3 separate regions of the Homo sapiens genome follow, and all the other regions are linked to region 1. The links come from fine-mapping of genetic effects on gene expression. A gene starts in region 1. Each other region holds a variant in brackets. All regions are shown on one strand. Distances are from middle to middle.

What was found.
Region 2: its variant is fine-mapped to the expression of MCM7 in lung (TOPMed, PIP 0.98).
Region 3: its variant is fine-mapped to the expression of MCM7 in whole blood (TOPMed, PIP above 0.99).

The regions. Positions count from the first base shown.
Region 1 is chr7:100,094,917-100,104,575 of GRCh38, reverse strand. MCM7 (minichromosome maintenance complex component 7) reads left to right here and starts at 3,179. Exons shown (of 15, transcript NM_005916.5): 1 at 3,179-3,312; 2 at 4,483-4,562; 3 at 4,823-4,987; 4 at 5,173-5,297; 5 at 5,373-5,553; 6 at 5,861-5,998; 7 at 6,286-6,435; 8 at 6,628-6,742; 9 at 6,831-6,962; 10 at 7,192-7,275; 11 at 8,409-8,802; 12 at 9,106-9,189. The coding sequence starts at 3,282. It overlaps AP4M1 (adaptor related protein complex 4 subunit mu 1), which reads right to left and starts at 2,933. Exons shown (of 15, transcript NM_004722.4): 1 at 2,804-2,933; 2 at 2,608-2,696; 3 at 1,795-1,901; 4 at 1,616-1,712; 5 at 1,057-1,167; 6 at 884-964; 7 at 422-484. The coding sequence starts at 2,861. RefSeq lists enhancers at 2,855-2,904, 2,927-3,479, 3,825-3,984, 8,575-9,075 and a silencer at 3,615-3,714.
Region 2 is chr7:99,807,851-99,818,140 of GRCh38, reverse strand. No RefSeq gene overlaps it. Among named protein-coding and RNA genes, the nearest start is that of CYP3A43, 15 kb to the left of the region's middle. RefSeq lists enhancers at 8,057-8,659, 8,660-9,263. The variant T/A (reference allele first, on the strand shown) is at 5,647.
Region 3 is chr7:100,036,136-100,046,425 of GRCh38, reverse strand. ZKSCAN1 (zinc finger with KRAB and SCAN domains 1) reads right to left here. Exons shown (of 6, transcript NM_003439.4): 6 at 4,737-10,290. Among named protein-coding and RNA genes, the nearest start is that of ZSCAN21, 8.5 kb to the left of the region's middle. RefSeq lists enhancers at 8,095-8,594, 8,595-9,096. The variant C/T (reference allele first, on the strand shown) is at 4,862.

The DNA of each region.
Region 1 (9,659 bases):
TACAGGCATGAGCCACTGTGCCCAGCCTTTTTTACTTATTTATTTTTTTTAAGAGACAGGGTCTTGCTCTGTCATCCGGGCTAGCGTGCAGTGACTCGATCTTGGCTTACTGCAGCCTTAACCTCCTGGGCTCAAGTGATCCTCCTGGCTCAGCCTCCCAAGTAGCTGGGACAGCAGGTGTACACTACCATGTCTGGGTAATTTGTTTATTTGTATTTTTTGTAGAGACGGGGTCTGGCTATGTTGCCCAGGCTGGTTTCAAACTCCTGGCCCCAAGTAATTCTCCCACCTCGGCCTCCCAAAGCACTGGGATTACAAGCATGAGCCACTGTGCCCGGCCGTTGCTGGGAGTCTTAGCCACCCCACCATGTTTCCCAAGTCCCATCTGTCCTCAGCTCCAGGTTTGGGAGCTCAAACTTACATTAGATGCTATCAGTACAGACAATCTCTCGACCACATCCAAAAAAACTTCATTCTTTTGGCTCTGAGAAAGAGAGAGAATTTGGGTGGTTGGAAGCAGAATAGCCTATGTTCTGAAATGGACAGACAGGGAGAAAGAACAGGACAGTCAAAGCTACAGCTCTAGGGTGAGGACATGGGTGATGGAAGGGATCATCTCCCACCTCCACCCACATCTGGGGGGGTGGGAGATGTGCCAAGATCTTTTTCTTTTTTTTTTTTTTTTTTTGCATTTTTAGTAGAGACAGGTTTTCACCATGTTGGCCAGGCTGCTCTGAAACTCCTGGCATCAGGTGATCTGCCCACCTCGGCCTCCCAAAGTGCTGGGACTACAGGCGTGAGCCGCTGTGCCCGACCTAAGATCTTGGACTCCCGGATCCCAGAGCAAAACCAGAGCGTCTGACCCCATGGATCCTTCCCTCACCTGGTCAGAGCGACTGGACAGGACGGGGCGGCTGGCTGCACTGCTGGGGGCCACTTTGCTCTGTTGTGTCTCAGCCCCAAACTGTAAAGCATCCAAAGCAATCAATCATCAGGTCTGACAACCCCAGCCAACCCCTCTTCTCTTTCCTCACCCTCCTCTTTCCCTCTACTGACCAAGCCAACGCTGCTGAGGTCAAAGAGGCTGAAGGGCTTGCTGACCACAGCTTCCGTCTGGATGAAATTCCTCAGCATCTCCGTGGATGTGGTCTGTACATAGCCATAGTCCTAGTGGTAAAGGAAGGACAGTCTGAGTGATCAGTGGAGGGAAGGGGTAAAGAGGGGGAGTGGGGCCAGGCATGGTGACTCACTCCTGTACTCTCAGCGCTTTGGAAGGCCGAGACGTAGGAGAATGGCTTGAGGCCATGAGTTCAAGACCAGCCTGGGCAACACAGTGAGACTCTAGTCTCTACAAAAAATAAACAATTAGCTAGGCACAGGGGAGGCTGGGGCAGGAGGACGGCTTGAGCCCAGGAGTTCCAGGCTGCAGTGAGCTATAACTGCACCACTGCAGTCCAGCCTGGGCAACAGAGCAAGACCCTGTCTCTAAAAGCAAAAAAAAAAAAAAAAAAAAAGGTAGACTTGGCCTCCTAACCACGGCATCCCACAGTAGAAGAGCAGATGTATCTTCAGGGGAATTGGGTAGGGGCCACAGAAGGGGATTGTTGATTCTCACCAGCACTTCATCCAGGAGTTCGTATACCAGAGCCACATTGCGGGAGATGGTCCCCTCGCCCAGGGAGCCACAGTAATCGCCCAGAAGGGTGGCCAACCTGAGGAAACACTTGGAGCGTGTATTTTCTCCTCCTCTCAGACCCCTCCTAGCTACCAGGTGCCCAGCCCAACCCTCCTCACCTGGAGAGCAGTTCTAGGAGGCTGAAGGGAGAAACGTTTTCTGAAGTTGTGACCACCAAATAGAGGCCGCTGTGTCTGATGTGAATGAAATGACGGCCATGGTGATGCTGAGACACAGGCAGGGAGAAGAGAGGCGTTAAAAAAAGGGAGGTGGAGTGATCAGAACCCAGGAGACCTGAGCTCGGATCCCGATGCCTCTTACTAGTCACAACAGCAGTGCCTTTGGGAGATACATGACATATGCCTGGGCCCAGCTTCCCAATGTGGAAAGGGGGTTAATTACACTAACTACCCCGAGTTGCTGAGGATGGAGTCACGCAGGGAGCTGGGCCTGGTGTGTTGCTGGCGCCCATTGACTCTTTTTTTTTTTTTCCCCACCCCCACCTACCCCGAGAGGGAGTCTCGCTCTGTCTCCCAGGCTGGAGTGCGGTGTCCGGATCTCGGCTCACTGCAACCTCTGCCTCTTGGATTCAAGCGATTCTCAAGCCTCAGCTTCCCGAGTAGATGGGATTACAGGCGCCCGCCACCACGCCCAGCTATGTTTTTTTTTTTTTTGTATTTTTAGTAGAGGCGGAGTTTCACCATGTTGGCCAGGCTGATTTCGAACTCCTGACCTCAGGTGATCCGCCCGCCTCGGTCTCCCAAAGTGCTGGGATTACAGGCGTGAGCCACCGCGCCGGGCCTCACGTTAGCTTTATTTGGCGGAATGCACCCCCCAAGTGGAATCTACCAATGAACCAGTCCTGGGAGGGAGCTGGCGCCCACCCGGCCCGACGGGACCCCGCTCCTCACCCGCCTCCCGCCACTGGTTACCATGACAACCGGGGACTCGTCTCCTGGCAGTCCCGTCAGCTTCCGGTAGAAGAGCTCGGCCACATCCCGGCCGCCACTGTCCCCGCGGACTGGCGGGTGGAAGGACTCAGTGAAGGATCCTGCGACACAGGCTGGCCCTGGGCGCCCCTCCCGCCCGGCCCCTCCGCCCCTTCCCAGCCCCAAGGGTCTAGGATACAGTCTTTGTAGATGAGCGGGTCCCCCTTGGAGGACAGAATGAAGAATTGGGAAATCATGGCCGTTCTGGAGAGTAGACAAGAAGACGGCGAAAGTCGGGCCTGCCCCGCCCTGCGGCCCCGGAACAAAAGAACGCGTGTGCGCTGGCCCTTTAAGAGCGATTCTCCTCCGCCCGCGCCAGCTCGGACCGCGGGAAACCCGGCGCCTGCACTACCCCGCCCGGAGATTCCCTTCCGACGCCCGCACCGCCTCCCCGTCACTCATTCTAGGCCCGCACGGTGATTGGCTTGCGGCTAGCGGGAGGTGAAGAAGGCCGCCTTGTCCGATTGGCCCGCACGCAGTGGCGCCGGTCACGTGGGGGGCGACGTTTCGCGCCAATTTCGGTTGGCCGGCCACAGTCCACCGCGCGGAGATTCTCAGCTTCCCCAGGAGCAAGACCTCTGAGCCCGCCAAGCGCGGCCGCACGGCCCTCGGCAGCGATGGCACTGAAGGACTACGCGCTAGAGAAGGGTACGGGTCTACGAGCCCGGGAGGGCGTCCTGCGCGGGGAGCCTCCCGGGGAACACCTGTTGGTGTGAGCTGGGGTCTTGGGGGACCGGGGTCGGCGGGTTCTGGGGTGCGCGAGGCCAGAGGCAGGGTCGAGCTGCGGCCTGGCTAAGGCCCACGGGGCCTGGGAAGCGTGCGGGGGGCCATCGATGTTGAAGAAAAGCTAGTAATCCCACCTGGTAAAGGTGTTAGGGTCGTGGGGTTGGGGGCTTGGGGGCGCGCTAACCCGGCTGGGGGCTGCACAGGGAAAAGTCGCGCCCAGGACCTCAGGAGAGTCTTAAGGGCTCTGGGCTCCCGTGCCCGCTTTCCTTCGCGCTTTTGGGCATTCCCAGGTTCCCGCGCCCTCCCCAGGCGCGCGTAGGCCCCGGGGGCGGGCAGGCCGGGGCCGCTGCGCGCCGGGATTGGCCGTTTGAGGCCGCCCTCCGAGCGGAAGTGGAGCCGGGCGGAAGTGGCGCGAGGAGGCTGGAGGGAGTGTCGTGTAAACAGTGTCCTTCCGCGCGGCGGCCGCGGAGAGAGCTGCGGCCCGGGGGGGCGTGCCTGGGATCCGGAGCTTCGCTCGGGCCCGGGAAAGGCGGCAGTGGGCTGGGATCGCGGTGTCTCTGGGTGTGATGGCCAATGGCTGGACTGGCTCCCGCCCTGGGCGGAGGAATCCCGAGCTGTGAAGCGGCTGGAATCCGGGCCCATGTGCTTCTTTGTTTACTAAGAGCGGAAGCGATGGCGGGAGCGGGGGTGGGGTGCGGTGGCGGGGTGCGGTGGCGGAGGTCCCGGTGAAATCAGGGGCTAAGGGGACCCAAAGAAGGCGGGGGATCATAGGGGTGGAAAGAAAGCTGAGAACCTTGAGACCGGAGTGTGAGGGGCCAACGGGGAAGGGCGCTAGAATTTTAAACTAAAGTAGGGACCGGAATTCCCCTGGGGAGATGTTGGATGGCCCTGTGCACTGCCACGGGCTCTTTATTCTTCGCTGGTTAGAAACAGACTTGTGAAAAAGAGTTATGCCCACTTTGGGGAGACTTCGGTAGGTTTATTTAAATGCTCATATTATTAATTAGTTCATAGGTCGTGTTTTAAGCGAAAATGGGTATCTAAGATTTGTCTTAAAGTTTGTGTCTTACGGTTTTACATTTCATGTTACAGAAAAGGTTAAGAAGTTCTTACAAGAGTTCTACCAGGATGATGAACTCGGGAAGAAGCAGTTCAAGTATGGGAACCAGTTGGTAAGTCTAAGATTGGGTAAAGGGAATGGGGAGCGGGGTGCTTAAGGAGCCATAAGCAGCAGCTTGGCTTGTTTTATTAAAGACATAACAATTAGAGGGTTTGAGGGCTGAAAAGCGAGTATCGCTCTGTGTGGCGCTGCGTTCTCCCCTGTGGATGCCCAGAGCCTGTGCTGAGTTCTCAGTGATGCATTTTCACATATGAACACTGGTGAGCAAAGTGAATGTGGCTCTGAGGTGTTTCTGTCTCTTCCCCACTTGAGGTTCGGCTGGCTCATCGGGAACAGGTGGCTCTGTATGTGGACCTGGACGACGTAGCCGAGGATGACCCCGAGTTGGTGGACTCAATTTGTGAGAATGCCAGGCGCTACGCGAAGCTCTTTGCTGATGCCGTACAAGAGCTGCTGCCTCAGTACAAGGAGAGGGAAGTGAGTGGTTAGAGAACAATGGCAAACAAAGGGCGAGGCGTTTAAGCTTCTGTAGAGAGGCTGCTCAGATACTGATGTTTTCTGAGCAGGCAGAAAGGAGGGGCACTTCTGCCTGGTGTTCTCTGTGCTCTCCTTTCCCCATCCTGTTGCTCTTTTTTTTTTTTTTTTTTGTTCTTCTCCTTTAGGTGGTAAATAAAGATGTCCTGGACGTTTACATTGAGCATCGGCTAATGATGGAGCAGCGGAGTCGGGACCCTGGGATGGTCCGAAGCCCCCAGAACCAGTACCCTGCTGAACTCATGCGCAGATTGTGAGTGGTCTCTGTCGGGAAAGATGTAGGGATTGGTTCTCCAGGATCTTGTTTGTGACTGTTTTCTCCCCTTAGTGAGCTGTATTTTCAAGGCCCTAGCAGCAACAAGCCTCGTGTGATCCGGGAAGTGCGGGCTGACTCTGTGGGGAAGTTGGTAACTGTGCGTGGAATCGTCACTCGTGTCTCTGAAGTCAAACCCAAGATGGTGGTGGCCACTTACACTTGTGACCAGTGTGGGGCAGAGACCTACCAGCCGGTACGTGTGGAGCAAGAAGCAGGAAAGCACTTACCCATTAGTTGTTTTGTAGAGATTAATTTGATCCTGTGATGCCTATTGTTTTATTTGGTTGTAAAAGTTGCCTGTGTGTTCGCCTTTCATTCTTGGGTATGTAGTGGTCTTTCTACCTATTTTCTGGGTGTTTGTTGTTGACCCAGAGTAAGTTCAGAGGGTTCTTGACACTTACAAGATGTCTGCCATGAAGAGAAAATGTGATTCAAAGGACCGACCCAATGGGGCTCTTTTCCTTCTGAGTTCCTTTGGTGTTTCTGTTCTCACATCCTAGATCCAGTCTCCCACTTTCATGCCTCTGATCATGTGCCCAAGCCAGGAGTGCCAAACCAACCGCTCAGGAGGGCGGCTGTATCTGCAGACACGGGGCTCCAGATTCATCAAATTCCAGGAGATGAAGATGCAAGAACATGTGAGTTTGGGGTACGTGGCCCTGGGCAGGTGGATCGGGAGTCCACTTGAATCCTGTAGTCACTTGTGGAATGGCAGGAAGAAAGAAGAACAAAAGAGGGAAGTGCAGGAGGGAGGTGGAACTAGAATTTCCTGGGAGCCTTGGGAAGGGGAAAGGAGGTCTCAGCACCCCTGCTGTGGGCTTGTCTGTGGCTGGGTAGCCTGGGAGCCTTTGAGTGGGATGCCTAGGGAGGGAAGGTTGGGTCCTTGTCCATTTCTCCTAGTCTTATGTGCCTTTCCCTCCCCTAGAGTGATCAGGTGCCTGTGGGAAATATCCCTCGTAGTATCACGGTGCTGGTAGAAGGAGAGAACACAAGGATTGCCCAGCCTGGAGACCACGTCAGCGTCACTGGTATTTTCTTGCCAATCCTGCGCACTGGGTTCCGACAGGTGGTACAGGTAAGGAAGAGTTTGACATGAGGAATGGATCATCCCCTTTTCCCTCACCTACTCATTCTACCCACACAGAGAAAAGAGCAGCAAAACCCCAAACAAAACAGAACCCAGGGATTTGTCAAGAAATTGTTAGGGAATCCAGTGATGGGCAAGTTGAAGGGATTACATCTGTATCCTGGCATTTTCCTGCCCAAGGGTTTACTCTCAGAAACCTACCTGGAAGCCCATCGGATTGTGAAGATGAACAAGAGTGAGGATGATGAGTCTGGGGCTGGAGAGCTCACCAGGGAGGAGCTGAGGCAAATTGCAGGTGAGGGGCAGGGGAGAGAGAGGAAATTCCGTTTACATCCTAGCTCCCTTTTCCCCCAGAAAATAAAACAACCTTAACTTCTCTACAGAGGAGGATTTCTACGAAAAGCTGGCAGCTTCAATCGCCCCAGAAATATACGGGCATGAAGATGTGAAGAAGGCACTGCTGCTCCTGCTAGTCGGGGGTGTGGACCAGTCTCCTCGAGGCATGAAAATCCGGGGTAAGAAGAAACAAGGGAGAGGCTCAGGGTGGATGAAGTCATTTAGGAGGAAAAAAGGATGACAAGTGTCCCTGTAGGTCACAGTATGAGTGGACATCTTGCCTTCGTGGACACAGGGAGGGCTTAGAAATAGTGCTGGGTGTTAGGGGTAGGCAGAACTCAAAATTGCTCTGTTGTTGGCCAAGCACTGGGAGAAGAGTCATTCCAGGGCTGCCTTCCCTTCCTCCAGGCAACATCAACATCTGTCTGATGGGGGATCCTGGTGTGGCCAAGTCTCAGCTCCTGTCATACATTGATCGACTGGCGCCTCGCAGTAAGTAGTTGGGCTTTGCGGGAGGTGAATATAGTGACAGACAGGACCACAGTGTTTATTCAAAAAGTAGGGGTGCATGTTTGCTCACGCCTGTAATCCCAATGCTCTGAGAGGCTGAGGCAGGAGAATCATTTGAGGCGAGGATTTTGAGACCGCTTCCATGTCTACTAAAAAGTTTTGTTTTTGTTTTTGTTTTTTTTGAGATAGAGGCTTGCTCTTTCGCCCAGGCCGGAGTGCAGTGGCGCTATCTCGGTTCACTGCAAGCTCCACCTCCTGGGGTCACGCCATTCTCCTGCCTCAGCCTCCCGAGTAGCTGGGACTACAGGCGCCCGCCACCACGCCTGGCTAATTCTTTGTATTTTTAATAGAGACGGGGTTTCACCGTGTTAGCCAGATGGTCTCGATATCCTGACCTCGTGATCCGCCCGCCTCGGCCTCCCAAAGTGCTGGGATTACAGGCGTGAGCCACCGCACCCGGCCTAAAAAGTTTTTTTTGTTGTTTGGGTATTGTTTTGTTTTTTGTTTTTTTTGAGACGGAGTCTCAGTCACCCAGACTGGAGTGCAATGGCATGGTCTTGGCTCACTGCAACCTCTGCCTCCCAGGTTCAAGCAATTCTCCTGCTTCGGCCTCCCGAGTAGCTGGGACTACAGGCGCGTGCCACCACACTTGGCCACTTTTTGTATTTTTAGTAGAGACAGGGTTTACTGTGTTGGGCAGGCTGGTCTCGAACTCCTGACCTCGTGATCTGCCCGCCTTGTTATCGGCCTCCGAAAGTGCTGGGATTAGAGGAGTTAGCCACTGCGCCCGGCCTCTACTAAAAAGTTTTAAAAATTGGTTGGGTGTGGTAGTGAGTGCCTATAGTCTCAGTTACTTGGGAGGCTGAGGCCGGAGGATGGCTTGAGCCCAGGAGCCAAGGTTTCAGTGAGCCACAGTTGTGTTCTGAAGAGAACCAGTGGGAGGGGAAGGGGGACATTGCCAGTGCCCCACAGATCCTCGGGCATCTCAAGAAGGCCTGGTGGAGGGAGTGGAATGATCCCAGCGCAGGCCTCGCCTCCCTGGCCCGTTTGTTGTCTTTTGCTTGTTCTCTTTCTTGTTCTTTCTCTCTCATGGTTCCTTATTTCTTCTCTTCCAGGCCAGTACACAACAGGCCGGGGCTCCTCAGGAGTGGGGCTTACGGCAGCTGTGCTGAGAGACTCCGTGAGTGGAGAACTGACCTTAGAGGGTGGGGCCCTGGTGCTGGCTGACCAGGGTGTGTGCTGCATTGATGAGTTCGACAAGATGGCTGAGGCCGACCGCACAGCCATCCACGAGGTCATGGAGCAGCAGACCATCTCCATTGCCAAGGCCGGCATTCTCACCACACTCAATGCCCGCTGCTCCATCCTGGCTGCCGCCAACCCTGCCTACGGGCGCTACAACCCTCGCCGCAGCCTGGAGCAGAACATACAGCTACCTGCTGCACTGCTCTCCCGGTTTGACCTCCTCTGGCTGATTCAGGACCGGCCCGACCGAGACAATGACCTACGGTGAATGAAGCTCAACACCCAAAGAGAGGTCCCCTGTAATGATCTGTGTAGGGAGGAGGAGAGGTGAATCAGAAAACAAATTCCACGCTCCTGGAAACCCCAGAGCCTCCCCTTTGCAGCAGGGGCTGGTCCATGGTTCTCAGGGAAATGGTGGGTTGGGGCTGAAATGCTGATGAGGATTTCCCGGGAAAGCTTGTCCCTCCTACACTGTGAGGAAGTGGCAGAGCCAAAGGAGGGACACCTAAGAGGACATGGGTGCGTAGCCCTAAAAAGGGTGTTCCTTCTAACCTTCCCTCTGTCCAGGTTGGCCCAGCACATCACCTATGTGCACCAGCACAGCCGGCAGCCCCCCTCCCAGTTTGAACCTCTGGACATGAAGCTCATGAGGTAGGAGAGCTGGGTGCGGGTGGGCAAACGTTGGCGTGGGCCGTGCGAGCCTCCTGAAAAAGTGCTTATTAGTCTTAGGGTGTGTGTTTTTCACACCACCACTTCCCGCTACAGACATGTCCAGAGCCTCAGATCAGCTTTTAAGTGGAAAATTCCACACTTCATATCATAGGGACACAGGAAATTTTGTTTCCTACACTATTTATTTTTTTTGAGACGAAGTCTTGCTCTGTCACCCAGGCTGGAGTGTAGTGATCTCAGCTCTCTGCAACCTCTGCCTCCCAGATTCAAGCGATTCTCCTGCCTCAGCCTCCTGAGTAGCTGGGATTACAGGCGCACGCCACCACGCCTGGTTAATTTTTTGTATTTTAGTAGAGAGCAGTTTCACCATGTTGGCCAGGATGCCCACCTCTGCCTCCCAAAGTGCTGGGATTACAGGCATGAACCACTGCTCCTGGCCCACAAAAATA
Region 2 (10,290 bases), 290 kb after region 1:
ATAATGCATGTCTGGGAACAATGGGTGTGAAAGGAGAGAAGAGGAGAACAGCTACCTGGATTGCCAGGTGGACTCCAGCCACCTTAGCCACCAGGGATGTGGCTGATGTCACTACAAGCAGCACATACAACATCAAGGACTCCAATAAGATGATTTGAGCTTCTTCTTTGGGGTAGTAGGGGTCAGAACAGACACATCCTGCTTTCTGAAGAGTGAAATATTTACCCCAGGAGCTGGTAAGGATGAGGCCTGCGACAGCAATGCTGTCATCTGAGAGCCCCTCTATGCCTGCTTGCTGGAAGAGATCCCAAAGCTGAGCCTTTGGAAATGGCACTGGCTCATTATCATCACTGACCCACGTTCCATGTCTCCTTGCCCTGAGGAATTATGAATTATGTGACAAGTAAATCCTCGACATTCTTAAAAGTCAGCAGAAATACAGCCCTAAACTCCTGGGCTCAAGTGATCCTCCTGCCCTAGCCTCTCGAGTAGCTGGAACTACAGGCATGCATCAACATGTCCAGACTTTATTTGTTGTTGTAGATATGGGGTCTTGCTATAATGCCTAGGCTGGTCTCAAAGTGCGGGCTCAAGCAATCCTTCTCTCTCAGCCTCCCAAATTACTGGGAATACAGACATCAACCACTGAGCCTGATCTTGATAGAAATTCTTAGTAAAAAGGATGACTTTTAAATATTAAATCTAGATTCTCAAGCAGTATGGTAAACTATTTTTGAAAAGCCATATACAATTAAATTTGTATATGTTAAAACTTGCAAAATAATCTTGAGTAGGCTGGACGTGGTTGCTTATGCCTGTAATGCCAGCACTTTGGGAGGCCAAGACCAGCGGATCACAAGGTCAGGAGATCGAGACCATCCTGGCTAACACAGTGAAACCCCGTCTCTACTAAAAATACAAAAAATTAGCCGGGCATGGCGGCGTGTGCCTGTAGTCCCAGCTACTTGGGAGGCTGAGGCAGGAGGATGGCGTGAACCTGGGAGGCGGAGCTTGCAGTGAGCCGAGATCTTGCCACTGCACTCCAGCCTGGGCGACAGAGCAAGACTCTGTCTAAAAAAAAAAAAAAATCTTGAGTAGATATTATACATTTTAATTATACAAGCAGCCATTGACTTCTGAAAAGTCCAGTAACCCCTCCTAATTAAACCCATCCTATGAAATGATGGGAAGAGGGCTTCAGGAGACTTTATTTATTTATTTATTTATTGAAACAGAGTCTTGCTCTGTGGGCCCTGAGCTGGAGTGCAGTGAAGTGATCTCGGCTCATCGCAACCTCCGCCTCCTGAGTTGAAGCACTTCTCCTGCCTCAGCCTCCCCCGTAGCTGGGATTACAGGTGGGCACTACTGAGCCCAGCTAATTTTTGTATTTTTAGTAGAGACGGAGTTTCACCATGTTGGCCAGGCTGGTCTTGAACTCCTGGCCTCAGTGATCAGCCTGCCTCGGCCTCCCAAAGTGCTGGGATTACAGGCATGAGCCACCGCGCCTGGCCTGTGCTTTTGCTTTTAACATCTCATCTTGGCTACAAAGAGCAGTGCAAATGGGGAACTTCTCAAGTCCTACAGCATTTTGACCATAGTTTTAGCCTCACTCTTATCAAGTCAGCAACACTGTAACTTCCAATCTCAGTTGAGTGGAGGGCAAGCAAATTGCTATAGAGACTGAGAAACATCAGCCTGTAGATGCCTGGGAGCTGGGCTAGGGACTATCTTCCCCTTCCCAAATGTGCCACAAGCCTGCTTTCTCCCGCACTGAGCCCCCTATTTGTACAGATGCACAGATTGGCTACAAAGCTTCCATTAAGCCACAAATAGGATGAAAACCATCTCTACCCTCCTCCATTCCCATGCAGAAATCCTGCTTCAGAGAAGGAGTTGCATATTGAATGCATGAATCCTAGAAATAAGACTTAGAAGGTCTTGTTTGACATCAATCAATGACAACTGTCTTTAAGTTCATCAGGGAAAAGATCCCAACTTTTCTATAAAGGTAACACCATGTTATTTTTAATTTTAAAGTGACATGAATGTATTTTTCTAAGAGACAGACAAACACACCCACAAACACCCACACATACATAAATGTCAGATTAAAATTAAAAATTAAATACCTTAAAATTTGTGGCCAGGAACCCCAATTCAACTGCAAATCACTCCTTGAACATTTACTGAATGCTTGCCATGGAAATGTCCCCTGCAAAGTGCTATTTGAATTTTATGAAAGAAATAAAATGAAGTGATATTTTTTAAGGGGCTGAGGACAGACATTCTTAGATATAGAGAGAACTTAGTAAACAAACATGAATGATTTAGTGACAAATATGAAATCAGGTGATGATAACAGCCTGCAGTAATGAATAACAAAGCAGAGGACTGAATGGGCCCTGGACTAGATGGAAGGGCTTTTCGGAGGAGGTTGGGGATTGAACCAGGACATGAAGGATGGGGAGAGGATAAGAAAGAGAGAGGGAAGAACATTCATAGAATTATTGTTGGGTTGAGAACTAGCTTGGCTTGTCAGCAGGAAGGGTCCTGGAAGGTGAGTTCTAACAGTCAGGATGACCCTGACCTCTGGGAGATTTTCTACTCTGGAAGAAATGTCTTGATTTAGTGATTCTCAAATTTGGTTTCACATGAGAAGCAATGGAGAGGATGTTTAAAGCAACACTGTGGGGAAAGTATTTTAGAATCTCTGAGATGACACAAGCATCGTGAATATTTAAAACTCCCAGGTGATCACAATGAACAGCTAGTGGTTGAGAACCACTGTCATAAGAAATCTTCTGGAAATTCTTTTTTAAATTTTTATTTATTTAAATTTAAAATTTTTATTTTTGGTGGGTGTGAGAAAACATTTTAAATGATCCATTTTCTTTTTTTTTTTTTTAATGTTTTTTTTTTTAATTATACTTTAAGTTTTAGGGTACATGTGCACATTGTGCAGGTTAGTTACATATGTATACATGTGCCATGCTGGTGCACTGCACCCACTAACGTGTCATCTAGCATTAGGTATATCTCCCAATGCTATCCCTCCCCCCTCCCCCGACCCCACCACAGTCCCCAGAGTGTGATATTCCCCTTCCTGTGTCCATGTGGTCTCATTGTTCAATTCCCACCTATGAGTGAGAATATGCGGTGTTTGGTTTTTTGTTCTTGCGATAGTTTACTGAGAATGATGGTTTCCAATTTCATCCATGTCCCTACAAAGGACATGAACTCATCATTTTTTATGGCTGCATAGTATTCCATGGTGTACATGTGCCACATTTTCTTAATCCAGTCTATCATTGTTGGACATTTGGGTTGGTTCCAAGTCTTTGCTATTGTGAATAATGCCGCAATAAACATACGTGTGCATGTGTCTTTATAGCAGCATGATTTATAGTCATTTGGGTATATACCCAGTATTGGGATGGCTGGGTCAAATGGTATTTCTAGTTCTAGATCCCTGAGGAATCGCCACACTGACTTCCACAATGGTTGAACTAGTTTACAGTCCCACCAACAGTGTAAAAGTGTTCCTATTTCTCCACATCCTCTCCAGCACCTGTTGTTTCCTGACTTTTTAATGATTGCCATTCTAACTGGTGTGAGATGATATCTCATAGTGGTTTTGATTTGCATTTCTCTGATGGCCAGTGATGATGAGCATTTTTTCATGTGTTTTTTGGCTGCATAAATGTCTTCTTTTGAGAAGTGTCTGTTCATGTCCTTCGCCCACTTTTTGATGGGGTTGTTTGTTTTTTTCTTGTAAATTTGTTTGAGTTCATTGTAGATTCTGGATATTAGCCCTTTGTCAGATGAGTAGGTTGCAAAAATTTTCTCCCATGTTGTAGGTTGCCTGTTCACTCTGATGGTAGTTTCTTTTGCTGTGCAGAAGCTCTTTAGTTTAATTAGATCCCATTTGTCAATTTTGACTTTTGTTGCCATTGCTTTTGGTGTTTTGGACATGAAGTCCTTGCCCACGCCTATGTCCTGAATGGTAATGCCTAGGTTTTCTTCTAGGGTTTTTATGGTTTTAGGTCTAACGTTTAAATCTTTAATCCATCTTGAATTGATTTTTGTATAAGGTGTAAGGAAGGGATCCAGTTTCAGCTTTCTACATATGGCTAGCCAGTTTTCCCAGCACCATTTATTAAATAGGGAATCCTTTCCCCATTGCTTGTTTTTCTCAGGTTTGTCAAAGATCAGATAGTTGTAGATATGCGGCATTATTTCTGAGGGCTCTGTTCTGTTCCATTGATCTATATCTCTGTTTTGGTACCAGTACCATGCTGTTTTGGTTACTGTAGCCTTGTAGTATAGTTTGAAGTCAGGTAGTGTGATGCCTCCAGCTTTGTTCTTTTGGCTTAGGACTGACTTGGCGATGTGGGCTCTTTTTTGGTTCCATATGAACTTTAAAGTAGTTTTTTCCAACTCTGTGAAGAAAGTCATTGGTAGCTTGATGGGGATGGCATTGAATCTGTAAATTACCTTGGGCAGTATGGCCATTTTCACGATATTGATTCTTCCTACCCATGAGCATGGAATGTTCTTCCATTTGTTTGTGTCCTCTTTTATTTCCTTGAGCAGTGGTTTGTAGTTCTCCTTGAAGGGGTCCTTCACATCCCTTGTAAGTTGGATTCCTAGGTATTTTATTCTCTTTGAAGCAATTGTGAATGGGAGTTCACTCATGATTTGGCTCTCTGTTTGTCTGTTGTTGGTGTATAAGAATGCTTGTGATTTTTGTACATTGATTTTGTATCCTGAGACTTTGCTGAAGTTGCTTATCAGCTTAAGGAGATTTTGGGCTGAGACAATGGGGTTTTCTAGATAAACAATCATGTCGTCTGCAAACAGGGACAATTTGACTTCCTCTTTTCCTAATTGAATACCCTTTATTTCCTTCTCCTGCCTGATTGCCCTGGCCAGAACTTCCAACACTATGTTGAATAGGAGCGGTGAGAGAGGGCATCCCTGTCTTGTGCCAGTTTTCAAAGGGAATGCTTCCAGTTTTTGCCCATTCAGTATGATATTGGCTGTGGGTTTGTCATAGATAGCTCTTATTATTTTGAAATACGTCCCATCAATACCTAATTTATTGAGAGTTTTTAGCATGAAGGGTTGTTGAATTTTGTCAAAGGCTTTTTCTGCATCTATTGAGATAATCATGTGGTTTTTGTCTTTGGCTCTGTTTATATGCTGGATTACATTTATTGATTTGTGTATATTGAACCAGCCTTGCATCCCAGGGATGAAGCCCACTTGATCATGGTGGATAAGCTTTTTGATGTGCTGCTGGATTCGGTTTGCCAGTATTTTATTGAGGATTTTTGCATCAATGTTCATCAAGGATATTGGTCTAAAATTCCCTTTTTTGGTTGTGTCTCTGCCCGGCTTTGGTATCAGAATGATGCTGGCCTCATAAAATGAGTTAGGGAGGATTCCCTCTTTTTCTATTGATTGGAATAGTTTCAGAAGGAATGGTACCAGTTCCTCCTTGTACCTCTGGTAGAATTCGGCTGTGAATCCATCTGGTCCTGGACTCCTTTTTTGTTGGTAAACTATTGATTATTGCCACAATTTCAGAGCCTGTTATTGGTCTATTCAGAGATTCAACTTCTTCCTGGTTTAGTCTTGGGAGAG[T/A]GTATGTGTCGAGGAATGTATCCATTTCTTCTAGATTTTCTAGTTTATTTGCATAGAGGTGTTTGTAGTATTCTCTGATGGTAGTTTGTATTTCTGTGGGATCGGTGGTGATATCCCCTTTATCATTTTTTATTGTGTCTATTTGATTCTTCTCTCTTTTTTTCTTTATTAGTCTTGCTAGCGGTCTATCAATTTTGTTGATCCTTTAAAAAAACCAGCTCCTGGATTCATTGATTTTTTGAAGGGTTTTTTGTGTCTCTATTTCCTTCAGTTCTGCTCTGATTTTAGTTATTTCTTGCCTTCTGCTAGCTTTTGAATGTGTTTGCTCTTGCTTTTCTAGTTCTTTTAATTGTGATGTTAGGGTGTCAATTTTGGATCTTTCCTGCTTTCTCTTGTAGGCATTTAGTGCTATAAATTTCCCTCTACACACTGCTTTGAATGCGTCCCAGAGATTCTGGTATGTGGTGTCTTTGTTCTCGTTGGTTTCAAAGAACATCTTTATTTCTGCCTTCATTTCGTTATGTACCCAGTAGTCATTCAGGAGCAGGTTGTTCAGTTTCCATGTAGTTGAGCGGCTTTGAGTGAGATTCTTAATCCTGAGTTCTAGTTTGATTGCACTGTGGTCTGAGAGATAGTTTGTTATAATTTCTGTTCTTTTACATTTGCTGAGGAGAGCTTTACTTCCAACTATGTGGTCAATTTTGGAATAGGTGTGGTGTGGTGCTGAAAAAAATGTATATTCTGTTGATTTGGGGTGGAGAGTTCTGTAGATGTCTATTAGGTCCGCTTGGTGCAGAGCTGAGTTCAATTCCTGGGTATCCTTGTTGACTTTCTGTCCCGTTGATCTGTCTAATGTTGACAGTGGGGTGTTAAAGTCTCCCATTATTAATGTGTGGGAGTCTAAGTCTCTTTGTAGGTCACTCAGGACTTGCTTTATGAATCTGGGTGCTCCTGTATTGGGTGCATAAATATTTAGGATAGTTAGCTCCTCTTGTTGAATTGATCCCTTTACCATTATGTAATGGCCTTCTTTGTCTCTTTTGATCTTTGTTGGTTTAAAGTCTGTTTTATCAGAGACTAGGATTGCAACCCCTGCCTTTTTTTGTTTTCCATTGGCTTGGTAGATCTTCCTCCATCCTTTTATTTTGAGCCTATGTGTGTCTCTGCACATGAGATGGGTTTCCTGAATACAGCACACTGATGGGTCTTGACTCTTTATCCAACTTGCCAGTCTGTGTCTTTTAATTGCAGAATTTAGTCCATTTATATTTAAAGTTAATATTGTTATGTGTGAATTTGATCCTGTCATTATGATGTTAGCTGGTGATTTTGCTCGTTAGTTGATGCAGTTTCTTCCTAGTCTTGATGGTCTTTACATTTTGGCATGATTTTGCAGCGGCTGGTACCGGTTGTTCCTTTCCATGTTTAGCGCTTCCTTCAGGAGCTCTTTTAGGGCAGGCCTGGTGGTGACAAAATCTCTCAGCATTTGCTTGTCTATAAAGTATTTTATTTCTCCTTCACTTATGAAGCTTAGTTTGGCTGGATATGAAATTCTGGGTTGAAAATTCTTTTCTTTAAGAATGTTGAATATTGGCCCCCACTCTCTTCTGGCTTGTAGGGTTTCTGCCGAGAGATCCGCTGTTAGTCTGATGGGCTTTCCTTTGAGGGTAACCCGACCTTTCTCTCTGGCTGCCCTTAACATTTTTTCCTTCATTTCAACTTTGGTGAATCTGACAATTATGTGTCTTGGAGTTGCTCTTCTCGAGGAGTATCTTTGTGGCGTTCTCTGTATTTCCTGAATCTGAACGTTGGCCTGCCTTGCTAGATTGGGGAAGTTCTCCTGGATAATATCCTGCAGAGTGTTTTCCAACTTGGTTCCATTCTCCACATCACTTTCAGGTACACCAATCAGACGTAGATTTGGTCTTTTCACATAGTCCCATATTTCTTGGAGGCTTTGCTCATTTCTTTTTATTCTTTTTTCTCTAAACTTCCCTTCTCGCTTCATTTCATTCATTTCATCTTCCATTGCTGATACCCTTTCTTCCAGTTGATCGCATCAGCTCCTGAGGCTTCTGCATTCTTCACGTAGTTCTCGAGCCTTGGTTTTCAGCTCCATCAGCTCCTTTAAGCACTTCTCTGTATTGGTTATTCTAGTTATACATTCTTCTAAATTTTTTTCAAAGTTTTCAACTTCTTTGCCTTTGGTTTGAATGTCCTCCCGTAGCTCAGAGTAATTTGATCGTCTGAAGCCTTCTTCTCTCAGCTCGTCAAAATCATTCTCCATCCAGCTTTGTTCCGTTGCTGGTGAGGAACTGCGTTCCTTTGGAGGAGGAGAGGCGCTCTGCGTTTTAGAGTTTCCAGTTTTTCTGTTCTGTTTTTTCCCCATCTTTGTGGTTTTATCTACTTTTGGTCTTTGATGATGGTGATGTACAGATGGGTTTTCGGTGTAGATGTCCTTTCTGGTTGTTAGTTTTCCTTCTAACAGACAGGACCCTCAGCTGCAGGTCTGTTGGAATACCCTGCCGTGTGAGGTGTCAGTGTGCCCCTGCTGGGGGGTGCCTCCCAGTTAGGCTGCTCGGGGGTCAGGGGTCAGGGACCCACTTGAGGAGGCAGTCTGCCCGTTCTCAGATCTCCAGCTGCGTGCTGGGAGAACCACTGCTCTCTTCAAAGCTGTCAGACAGGGACACTTAAGTCTGCAGAGGTTACTGCTGTCTTTTTGTTTGTCTGTGCCCTGCCCCCAGAGGTGGAGCCTACAGAGGCAGGCAGGCCTCCTTGAGCTATGGTGGGCTCCACCCAGTTCGAGCTTCCCGGCTGCTTTGTTTACCTAAGCAAGCCTGGGCAATGGCGGGCGCCCCTCTCCCAGCCTCGTTGCCGCCTTGCAGTTTGATCTCAGACTGCTGTGCTAGCAATCATCGAGATTCCGTGGGTGTAGGACCCTCTGAGCCAGGTGTGGGATATAGTCTCGTGGTGCGCCGTATTTTAAGCCGGTCTGAAAAGCGCAATATTCGGGTGGGAGTGACCCGATTTTCCAGGTGCGTCCGTCACCCCTTTCTTTGACTCGGAAAGGGAACTCCCTGACCCCTTGCGCTTCCCAGGTGAGGCAATGCCTCGCCCTGCTTCGGCTCGCGCACGGTGCGCGCTCACACTGGCCTGCGCCCACTGTCTGGCACTCCCTAGTGAGATGAACCCGGTACCTCAGATGGAAATGCAGAAATCACCTGTCTTCTGCGTCGCTCACGCTGGGAGCTGTAGACCGGAGCTGTTCCTATTCGGCCATCTTGGCTCCTCCCCCTTAAATGATCCATTTTCAAGGCATGGTAAATCTAAGCACTGGCAGCCAGCCTGTGGATGTAACAAACTGCACGGCTCATGCACCTAGAAGGTCATAATAAGTGAACAGAATGTAGAGGAGGGGTCAGCCCATAAAAGGGAAGAAAGTTTTATTATCAGGAAGTCAAACTTAAGCAGGGAAGGGAACCGGGGTATAACCTTATAAGGGGGATAATGAAACTTAGGCGATGTCCAGGAAGATAACTCTGTAGTACTTGACCAATGAGGAACTGGGGGAAGGAATTCTGTGCTAGGAGATAAATTACCTGCTGTAACTGCCCTGGTTGTACCTGCCTACCAGACACCCGATCTTGCAAGGCCACCATTAAAAGTCTTGCTTCCGGCCAGGTGCAGTAGCTCACACCTCTAATTCCAGCACTTTGGGAGGCCAAGGCCAGGAGTTTGAGACCAGCCTGGCCAATATGGTGAAACACTATCTGTACTAAAAATACAAAAAATACAAAAATACATGGACATTGTCCATGGCAAGCATTCAGTAAATAGTCAAGGAGTGATTTGCAGTTGAATTGGGGTTCTAGGCCACAAATTTCCAAGCATGGTGGTGCACACCTATAGTCCCAGCTACTTAGAAAGCTGAGGCAGGAGAATCGTTTTAACCCGGGAGGCAGAGGTTGCAGTGAGCTGAGATCACACCATTACACTCCAGCCTGAGCAACAGAGCGAGATTTTGTCTCAAAAAAAAAAAAAAGTCTCACTTCCACTGTTCTTCATGTCTCCAAGTTCATTCTTTGGGTTTGGACAGGTGAATGTGTTTACCACAAACTTGTGGACCCACCTGGGGCTTCTGTGCCTGTGTGGAGTGGGACTCTTGCTGAGAGGGGAGACACATCTCACCTGATTTAGATAGCCCGCTCTGTTTAGGTATCCCGACTTCCCGCAGAGGCCATAGACAAACCTGAGACTGTTATTCAGGAGGCAGAGGAGGTGACACAGGAGGAAAGAAGGCACCACAGCAACCAGGCAACCTTGTGTATGAGCCGAGGAAGAAAAATTGGACCATAAGTACTACCTTGGTGGTTGGGCATTTTTGGAGGTCAAGTGTGTGTGACTGAGATGTATCCTAGATATGAAGTGAGTGCGGAGTCCCAATCTGCAGTTCTGTTCTCCCACGAGGGAAATGGCCATAGATGGATGAAGCGATTCTCAGGGTGTGCAGGAAACCTCCAGTGAGGCTGGGGGGTGGTTGAGTACACAGGGAAAAAGCTCAGACACAGAGACTGACTGAAGATGAGAAACAGAAATTCTAGGCCTAAGGCACAAAGGAAAGAGGGAGCCAAAAAGATTCCCTCT
Region 3 (10,290 bases), 58 kb after region 1:
TGTCCTTTCCAGGGCTGAGATGCTCCTCAAGCAAAGGGGCTTAGAGCTGCTGTAAAATATTAACGTCAAAAGAGACCTTAAGGACAATCTGGTTAAACTCTTGTTTCTTGTTTTCAGTTGAAGAAACCAGTGCCTGAAGAAGTCGGATCCAAGGTACACTAGTTAGCTAATTAGTATCAAAGCTGAGAGCACAAGCCAGATTCTCCAATCCTGTGTGCTTGCTGTGTCTCAAGAGATTTTTTATTTTTATTTATTTATTTGCGGTAGGGCCTCACTCTGTTGCCCAGGCTGGAGTGCAGTGGTGTGATCATAGCTCACTGCAGCCTCCAACTCCTGGACTCAAGTGATCCTCCCACCTCAGCCTCCCGAGTAGGCACATGCTACCATGCCTGGCTATTTTTCTAAAAAATTATTTCTTTTTTTTTTTTTTTTGAGACGGAGTCTCGCTCTGTCGCCCAGGCTGGAGTGCAGTGGCGTGATCTCGGCTCACTGCAAGCTCCGCCTCCCAGGTTCACACCATTCTCCTGCCTCAGCCTCCCGGGTAGCTGGGACTACAGGCACCCGCCACCATGCCCGGCTAATTTTTTGTATTTTTAGTAGAGACGGGGTTTCACCGTGTTAGCCAGGATGATCTCGATCTCCTGACCTCGTGATCCACCCGCCTCGGCCTCCCAAAGTGCTGGGATTACAGGCGTGAGCCACTGCGCCCAGCCCCTAAAAAATTATTTCTAGGGGTTTTACCATGTTGCCCAGGCTGGTAGAGAACTCCTGGGCTCAAGCAATCCTGCTGCCTCAGCCTCCCGAGTAGCTGGGACCACAAAAGAAAAATAATTCCCATGCACGCCACCATGCTGGACAATTTTTTTTTTTTTTTTTTTTTTGGTGAGACTGAGTCTTGCTCTGTCGCCAGGCTGGAGTGCAGTGGCGCCATCTCGGCTCACTGCAACCTCCAACTCCCTGGTTGAAGCAATTCTCCTGCCTCAGCCTCCCAAGTTGCTGGGATTGCAGGCATGCGCAATCACACCTAGCTTTTTGTATTTTTAGTAGAGATGGGGTTTCACCATGTTGGGCAGGATGGTCTGGATCTCCTGACCTCAGGATCTGCCCACCTCGGCCTCCTAAAGTGCTGGGATTACAGGCGTGAGCCACCGCACCCGCACCGCACCTATTTTTTGAAAAAATGTTTCGTAGGGGTTTCGCCATGTTGCCCAGGCTGGTCGAGAATTCCTGTGCTCAAGCAATCCTCCTGCCTCAGCCTCCCAAGTAGCGGGATCAGATGCACACCACCATGCCTGGGAGATTATTGGCTTGACAAAAGAAAAATAATTCCAGTGCCCTTTGCAGCGGAAACCCAGGAGAGGAAAAGATTCCAGCATTTAGTGTTGTCTCTGGCACCTTCCTTCCATTTCCAGTAAGGTGTTCATGGTTCTCTCTAAAAAGGTGCATTTCTGGATCTTCCTCGCTCGTTCTCATCATCACCTATTTTTGCTGCCATCAGCTGGCCAGCAGAGGGTAACCAAACCGTGACTTCCCTTAGAGCAGGCTGGGCAAGCCTCTGGCGCATGACAACTCCGAACATGTCCTTTTTCTTCCAGGAAGCAGAAGACATGTGCAGCATGTTGGAAAGCTGCAAAGACATTTGCTAAAGAAATTGAAAGGAAAAGAGAATGAAAGTGGAATGGTGGAGTTAAACTTCATGAAAAAAATTATTCAGTGCTACTTTTTTTTTTTTTTTTTTTTTTTTTGAGATAGAGTCTCACGCCATCACCCAGGCTGGAGTGCAGTGGCACGATCTCAGCTCATTGCAAGCTCCACCTCCCGGGTTCACGCCATTCTCCTGCCTCAGCCTCCCGAGCAGCTGGGACTACAGGCACCCGCCACCACGCCTGGCTAATTTTATTTTATTTTTTTGTATTTTTTTTAGTAGAGACGGAGTTTCACCGTGTTAGCCAGGATGGTCTCGATCTCCCGACCTCGTGATCCGCCTGCCTCAGCCTCCCAAAGTGCTGGGATTACAGGCGTGAGCCACCATGCCCGGCTCAGTGCTACTTGTTAAAGCATGGTAAGGAAGACTTTATTCAGGACCATCCTAATAAATACAGGAACCACTGCAGTGGGGTCTTGCAGTGAGGGGAGAGAGATTGGGCTCAGCTCTGAACACAGCATGGGCAAGTGGCAATTTATAGCCAAGGAGCAGGATGGGGGTCAGTGTATGGAAAATGATCAAGAGGAAACATCAGAGGGAAGGGGTATTCTTGCTGAACACAGGCCAGGCTGATCAGACATCGCCTGGGGGATGGTGGAGGACAAGGAACCTGACCAGATAAATATCAAGAGTAATTAGATATGGGCTGGGAGCGGTGGCTCACGCCTGTCATCCCAGCACCCTGGGAGGCTGAGGCAGGTGGATCACTTGAAGTCAGGAGTTCGAGACCAGCCTGGCCAACATGGCGAAACCCCGTCTCTAAAAAAAATACAAAAATTAGCTGGGTGTAGTGGTGTGCACCTGTAGTCCCAGCTACTCGGGAGGCTGAGTCAGGAGAATCACTTGAACCCAGGGGGTGGAGGTTGCAGTGAGCTGAGATCATGCCCTCCAGCTTGGGCAACAGAGAGAGATTCTGTCTCCAAAAAAAAAAAAAAAAAAAAAAAAAAAATCAAGAAAGAAAAGAAAAAGAAAAAAGCCTAAGTAGATATGGAGGGTGGGAGGTTTTTGCTAAACTTAGCAGGGTTCTTGCTAAAACTGGATTTTAGGCCCTTGCATGGTGGCTCATGAATATAATCCCAGCACTTCGGGAAGCTGAGGTGGGAGGATTGCTTGAGGCCCAGGAATTTGAGACCAGCCTGGGCAACATAGCAAGACCCTGTCTCTGCAAAAAATTAAAAAAAAATCTAGGCGTAGTGATGCATGCCTGTAGTCCCAGCTGAGGCTGAAATAGGAGGATTGCTTGAGTCCAGGAGGTTGAGGTTGCAGTGAGCCACAATCGTGCCACTGCACTCCAGCCTGAGCAACAGAACGAGACTTGTCTTACAAAAATAAAGAAAAATAAAATCCAGTTCTGGGTCGGGCACAGTGGCTCACGCCTGTAATCCCAGCACTTTGGGAGGCCAAGGTGGGAGGATTGCTTGAGGACAGGAGTTCGAGACCAGCCTGGGCAACATAGGGGGACCCCCATCTCTATAAAAGAAAAAATAATTATTAAGAAAAAATAGGGCTGGGTGTGGTGGCTCACACCTGTGAGGCCAAGGCAGGCAGATCACTTGAGCCCAAGAGTTCAAGACCAGCTTGGGAAATAGCCAGACTGTCACTACAAAAAATACCCAAAAAAGGCCAGGTGCGGTGGCTCACGCCTGTAATCCCAGCACTTTGGGAGGCCTAGGCAGGCAGATCATGAGGTCAGGAGATCGAGACCATCCTGGCTAACACTATGAAACCCCGTCTCTACTAAAACATACAAAAAAAGTTAGCCGGGCACAGTGGCGGGCGCCTGTAGTCCCAGCTACTCGGGAGGCTGAGGCAAGAGAATGGCGGGAACCCGGGAGGCGGAGCTTGCAGTGAGCCGAGATGGCGCCACTGCACGCCAGCCTGGGAGACAGAGCGAGACTCCGTCTAAAAAAAAAAAAAAAAAAACCCAAAAATTACCTGGGTGTGGTGGTGTATTCGTATACACACACACACACACACACACACGTGTATCTATACACATATACACATACACATGTGTATATATAATAAAAATATATATGAGACCTATGAGCCATCCCAGCAAATTATCAAACCTGAGACTGAGGAGAAGATTGTGGAAGCCCTTGATTTATAGCCGGTCCAAAGCACAGGTGAAAACCCGGAATGTAAGACTGGCGTCTGAAATGGGGGCAGTCTTGAGGGACTGAGCCCACAACCTGTGGAGTCTGCATCAGTTACAGGTAGTGTCAGAATTGAATTGAATCGTATGGCACCCAGTTGGTGTCCAGAGAATTGGTTGGTGTATGAAAAAAAATCCCACATTGTGTCAGAAGTGTGAGTAAAAACAGTCAGAGATGTGTTTGGATGCCTCCTGGACACAACCTCACATCCTCCCAGTTCACCTTTTTTTTTTTTTTTTTTTTGAGACAAAGTCTCACTCTGTTGCCCAAGCTGGAGTGCAGTGGTGCGATCTCGGCTCACTGCAACCTCCCCCTCCTGGGTTCAAGTGATTCTCCTGGCTCAGCCTCCCGAGTAGCTGGGACTACAGGCGCCCGCCACCACGCCTGGTTAATTTTTGTATTTTTAGTAGAGAGGGGGTTTCACCATGTTGGCCAGGCTGGTTTCGAACTCCTGGCCTCAGGTGATCTGCCTGCCTCGGCCTCCCAAACTGCAGGGATTACAGGCATAAGCCACCATGGCTGGCCATGTCTATCAGTCTTAAAGAGTCTGTTGTTATCAGTAATTCCATATGGGGAGAGGGTATAATGAGGCATGTTTGGCTCCCCCTTCCCATCATGGCCTGAACTAGTTTTTCAGGTTAACTTTGGAATGCCCTTGGCTGAGAGGAGAGGTCCATTCAGGTGACTGGGTGGCCTTTGAAATTTAATTTTGGTTTGCAAAGTAAACAGATAGTTTTGCATGAGAATTTTGTTTGTGGGTTGCAGCTCCAGTCTTTTAACTTTGGAATACTTTTTTTTCTTCACCCCCAATGTGTATTTATGCAACCAAGGATGAGAAAAACAAAGAACAAAAAACAAACCAGCACAAGCACTGCCACCTAGAGATGATAATTTATTGTTTTACCATGACTCAGAAGAGAAACAACATAAAGAGAATATTTCAAATCCCCACAATTTCCTTCCTCAACCTCACTACTCTTAACATTTCTTTATCAGA[C/T]GCCACTGGCTTCCTAAAATGGACCACTGACTATGTATGTGTACACATTTCATTATGCTGCCTTTTCTCTTATGATTAAAACTTTAGCCCTCATTCGAGGTTTCCAATGGTTACTTTTAGTGGAGGAGTTCCCTAGCTTTTAAAAAACCACTTTTCCTCTAAGATTCCATTATTTATTGAAAGAAGTCTTTCTAGAAATGTTAAGGAGGATTTTAAATGAACACATTCAATTAAAAAAAAAATCACGTATTGAACATCTACCAAGCATCTGGACTCTTCGGAACCTAGTAAAATGAAAAAATCCAGTTTTAACAACAGTAACTTCATTCTGCGGGTATACAGAGACAAGCACGTTTCTTCTTTTGGTCTAATTTATTCTAAACGAAGAAGCTGGGAACTGACAAAACAGGACAGGTTGTTTTTAATCCAGTCTACAAATAAACAAGACAATGCCTGAGTTAGCCCTCTATATAGATTTAGGCTTATGCTGACCTCGTTGTAAAATCTGTATTTAACTAAAAGTTAATAAAAATACATATGTTCATTTTAAAATAATTACTGATTTTGCTTGGCTATCCCACCCCTTACCCCCAAACTCATATATTTTTAGGACAAGATTTTCCTGCATAACCACAACCTGTCTCCTCCCACCCCACCCCCATCATAGATGTTTTCAAATAAGAACCCCTGCGATCAGCAGAAGCATCTCTAATCTAACATGCTTTGTCCTTGCTAGGGCAGGCTAAAAGCTTTAAAAAGCAACCGGATGCTCTTCTCTGGTTGAGGTGAGGGGAAGGCGCTCGGGTACCAACCCCAGCACACCCCAACAGCCTTTCCTCGGCCCCTCCTCAGGCCTCCTAATTACTCTTTCTCAGCCTGGAGTGTGGGGCCGTTACCGTCCTCTTCCCCCTTCTCCTTCCATACTGCACTTAACCTTGCTGGAAGACTTAATGATGGAGATTTAGGGCAACTGTGGCTGCTTGGACCCTTCCCTGGACCAAAGGAACTTAAAACCCAAACCTGACACTGGAATGAAATCCAAGTTTTTAAATATCACCTTTCAATCACTCACAGATCTCACTCTATCTTAAAATACTCAGCCTCACTCCTTAATGAGTGCTTGCTGAAGGGAGAAAATTCCATTTTAAAAACGTATTCACTTTACTGATTACTGTGCAATTTGAATTAAGTCACGATTCTTTAGTAAATGGAGGTGAGAATCTCAGATTCAAATTGTCAGAGACCATGATTTAGAAGTCTACCAAACACCCAGTTTCCTTCCACTGTTTTAGGGTAACAGGAAAACATGAGATTGGGGTGGTGTCCGCTATTAAATGGAACCACACATCATGAAATTCAATTCTCATGTTAAGACATTCTGTATTGTGGGATGTCAAAAGTATTTCCCAAACTTTCGTTTGACCTGCAGAGTTGGAGATGGCTTACCTCCCTATAACTTCAAGTTTGTTTCACAAAGCTTTGAAAAGTAAAACAGATAATTTCATTTTCAGATAATAAAAAATCTGAATAGCAAAATAATTGCTTTTAAATGTAGTGTGTCCACTCTAAAAAAAAAAACCCTAAATCTATGTTAGAAAAACTTTTCAAATAATGCCTTTTATTAAATTCTCCAGTAGTAGTTGAAATAAAAATCTACCCTAATTTCTATGAAATGATCTATTTATATCACTGACTTTTCTTTTTCTCTGATTCTATATTTCATTTAACAATCTGCAGACTTTCACCCCATTTCCCAGATGGGAAAACCCTAGCCCCCTCGTATCTCTGAGAAGTTGCTCAGAGTAGGACACAGAGAAATATGGCCCCCACCCTGGGAAGTACTGCTGTCACTGTTTAAGTGTATTTCAGTTCTGTTACTCCAATTCATACACACAGTCTTCCATGAGGATGGTAGGATGAACCTGGTTAGCTGGCTTTGGATAAGCAGATCAGCATGACTACCTGGAATAAAAGTGACTGACTCTAGGATAAAAATTAAAAAAAGATTCTTTCACAGCAACGAGTCTTTGCAAAACCTCTCTCCTAATAATCACAAACCAGGGGAAGAAAAGTGGGAGCAGGGAACACAGGAACACAGCCAAAGGGAATATTGCAAAATGCTTCCCGAGCTTCATCAGACAGACTTCTTGCAATGCCACGACTGGATGCATCTGCACACAATTCCGGGAAATGCCCACCTTGCTGTTCTCCTATCCCCAATTTTCTTTCTTTCTTTCTTTTTTTTTTTTCTTTTTTTGAGACAGAGTCTCTGTTACCCAGGCTGGAGTGCAGTGGTGCAATCTCGGCTCACTGCAACCTCTGCCTCCCAGATTTAGGTGATTCTCCTGCCTCAGCCTCCTGAGTAGCTGGGACTACAGGCGCCCACCACCACGCCCGGCTAATTTTTGTATTTTTAGTAGAGACAGGCTTTCACCACGTTGGCCAGGCTGGTCTCAAACTCCTGACCTCAAGTGATCCGCCCACCTCTGCCTCCCAAAGTGCTGAGATTACAGGAGTGAGCCACCGTGCCTGGCCAGTCCTATCCTCCCCCCAACCTTTTTTTTTTTTTTGACATGGAGTCTCACGCCATCACCCAGGCTGGAGTGCAGTGGCGCCATCTTGGCTCACTGCAACCTCCGCCTCCCATGTTCAAGTGATCCTCCTGCCTCAGCCTCCTGAGTAGCTGGGACTACAGGCGCCCGCCACCACGCCCAGCTATTTTTTTGTATTTTTAGTAGAGACGGGGTTTCGCCATGTTAGCCAGGATGGTCTCGATCTCCTGACCTTGTGATCCACCCGCCTTGGTCTCCCAAAGTGCTGGGATTACAGGCCTGAGCCACTGTGCCCAGCCTTATCCTCAATTTTCTAAGCATAAGGATTTAAGAGTTAGTGGGAAAGCATGACTACGGTTTAAAAGAACCTGGTCAGCTGAAGCAGTCCCACTTGGCCATTCCAGTACACTTCCTACTCTCGCTTCATGGAGAAGACCGTCTACTGACAAGAGAATCCATCCCCTTTGCACACAGTGGTCACCTGACAGCTCAGAGGTCAACTTCTTGGTTTTGAGGAAAAATTCAAAAGGCTGCACGTTTAAAGGAGTTGTTCCATTTCAGTGCCCCATTAGCCTGTCTTTCCTCAGAAATTTACCAATCTCTTGATGTGATAAGCACCAAACTATGAAGCTTTTCCCTTCCTCTCCCCGCTGCTCCGTTCTGTGAACCGACTTTTTGTCTACAATCACACTGATTTCTTCACTGTTTGCTCTGAAACTTCACTTTTTCTGAGTGATGTGTTCTGTCAAATAGGCTAAAATAAAATACAGTATCTGCTTACAGGTAATATACGGAACAATAACAAGGGACTGAAGGTACAAAACACACACGGACATTATGGTCATATAAAATATATAGAAGTACCTAACGTTAACAATTTTTGTAAGAAGTTGCACATTTTGCTATTTTTTTAAAGCATTTCCCCACATTTTTTTTCATCTGTAGATCCTCTGCAGTTAAGATTGAGCACCCCCCCGCAACTTTTTTTTTTGATACAGAGCCTCGCTCTGTCACTCAAGGCTGGAGTGCCAGTGGCATGATCTTAGCTCACTGCAACCTCCGCCTCGCAGGTTCAAGCCATTCTCCTGCCTCAGCCTCCCGAGTAGCTGGGACTACAGGCGTGCGCCACTGTGCCCAGCTAATTTTTTTTTGTATTTTTAGTAGAGACAAGGTTTCACCATGTTGGCCAGGCTGGTCTCGAACTACTGACCTCGTGATCCGCCTGCCTCGGCCTCCCAAAGTGCTGCGATTACAGGCGTGAGCCACGGCGCCCGGCCAAGATTGAGCTCCCTCTTGCAATGTTTCTCAAATTCATCACGATTGGAACATACCGACGGAATTCATTTTCTGTCTGAAGCAATGAGTGCTATACATGAAAGTTTTCCTCACATATAATATTCATCAAGTTTATTTACAGTATAAGCTTTCCGATGCTAAGGGCTGAGATGTGATTAAAGGCTTTGCCGTATTCATCACATTCAGGAGGCTCCTTTCTGGAATAAATTCTCTGATGTCTATGTGAACTGTCCCACGTATCACACGTCAACCTCTCTATACATATTTAGCAGTTTCACTTTTATGCCTTTAATATTAAGTGCTTTACATATCAAGATGTCTCATAGATCGATAATCTCAGGTTTTAGCCTTGCCTGCCAGGCTGGAGTAGAAACAAATACCCCACAACCTGAGGATTTTACTTCTCTTCCTGGCAAGGGTAGGGTATATATTGAAAAACTCTTCAAAAATTTCCATTAGGACAACTAGCATGCTAATGGTTAACTGTAGAATGTTTCAACTGTTAACAGACTTCAGCGGGCCAAGAACTTTTGAATGACTATCTTGAACGCCAATTAGATGTTGCAAGCGTTTTTGACCATGACCCAATTACACTTTGCACTGAGCATCTGATAAACGAATGCACTGCAAGTGGTTTTAATAAACAGTTGTAGCCTGTTTTCCTCAGAAAACACATCTTCAAATAGCTGCTTCAAGGACAGCATGTGGCTGAAGATCGAAGCAACCCTAGTGGCAGCTATCCAACAAAGTCAGGAAGATGTCTCCATGAAACGGAATTAAATGTGAGGGCACAGGTCACATTTAACCTTCATTTAAAAACAAAACTCAAAAGTGATGGCTGAGTTATATCAGCATATAGTTGTGGCTGAAAGAAAAAAAAAAACCAAAGGCCAATGTAAACATGACCAAAGTCCTTTCCCTCTTAAAAAATAAGTGCTTGGGTCGTTGCCTGGAGTTCCACACCTCACTTTTCAGTTTCTTTCTTTCTTTTTTTTTTTTTTGAGATGGAGTTTTGCTAGTCACCCAGGCTGGAGTGCAGTGTGCAATCTTGGCTCACTGCAACCTCTGCCTCCTGGGTTCAAGTGATTCTCCTGCCTCAGCCTCCCAAGTAGCTGGGATTACAGGTGCCCACCATCATGCCCGGCTAATTTTTATAATTTTAGTAGAGACGGGATTTTACCATGTTGGCCAGGCTGGTCTCAAAACTCCTGACCTCAGGTGATCCGCTCACCTCGGCCTCCCAAAGTGCTGGGATTACAGGCGTGAGCCACCGCACCTGGCCTCAGTTGCTTTCTAGAGGGCAAAAGTCCTTGCTCAAAAGCACAGGAGTTTTCTACAAAACCATTGCTGTGGCTTATTCTTTGAAGAAAATCCTTAAAACATTTTCTGCCTCCATTTTAGTTACTTAGATATACTCTTCTGGAGTAATGGGTTTTTCTTCCGTTGCATGGGTAGAAATATCCTAGTGACTGGTTGACTTGCAACACGTTTTCCCAAGTAATGCTGATGAAACTGCTTAGAAGCTATAGGGAAGTTGTAGTTGGTTTAAGTCATAAAGCCAAGGAGAGGCCAAAGAATGAC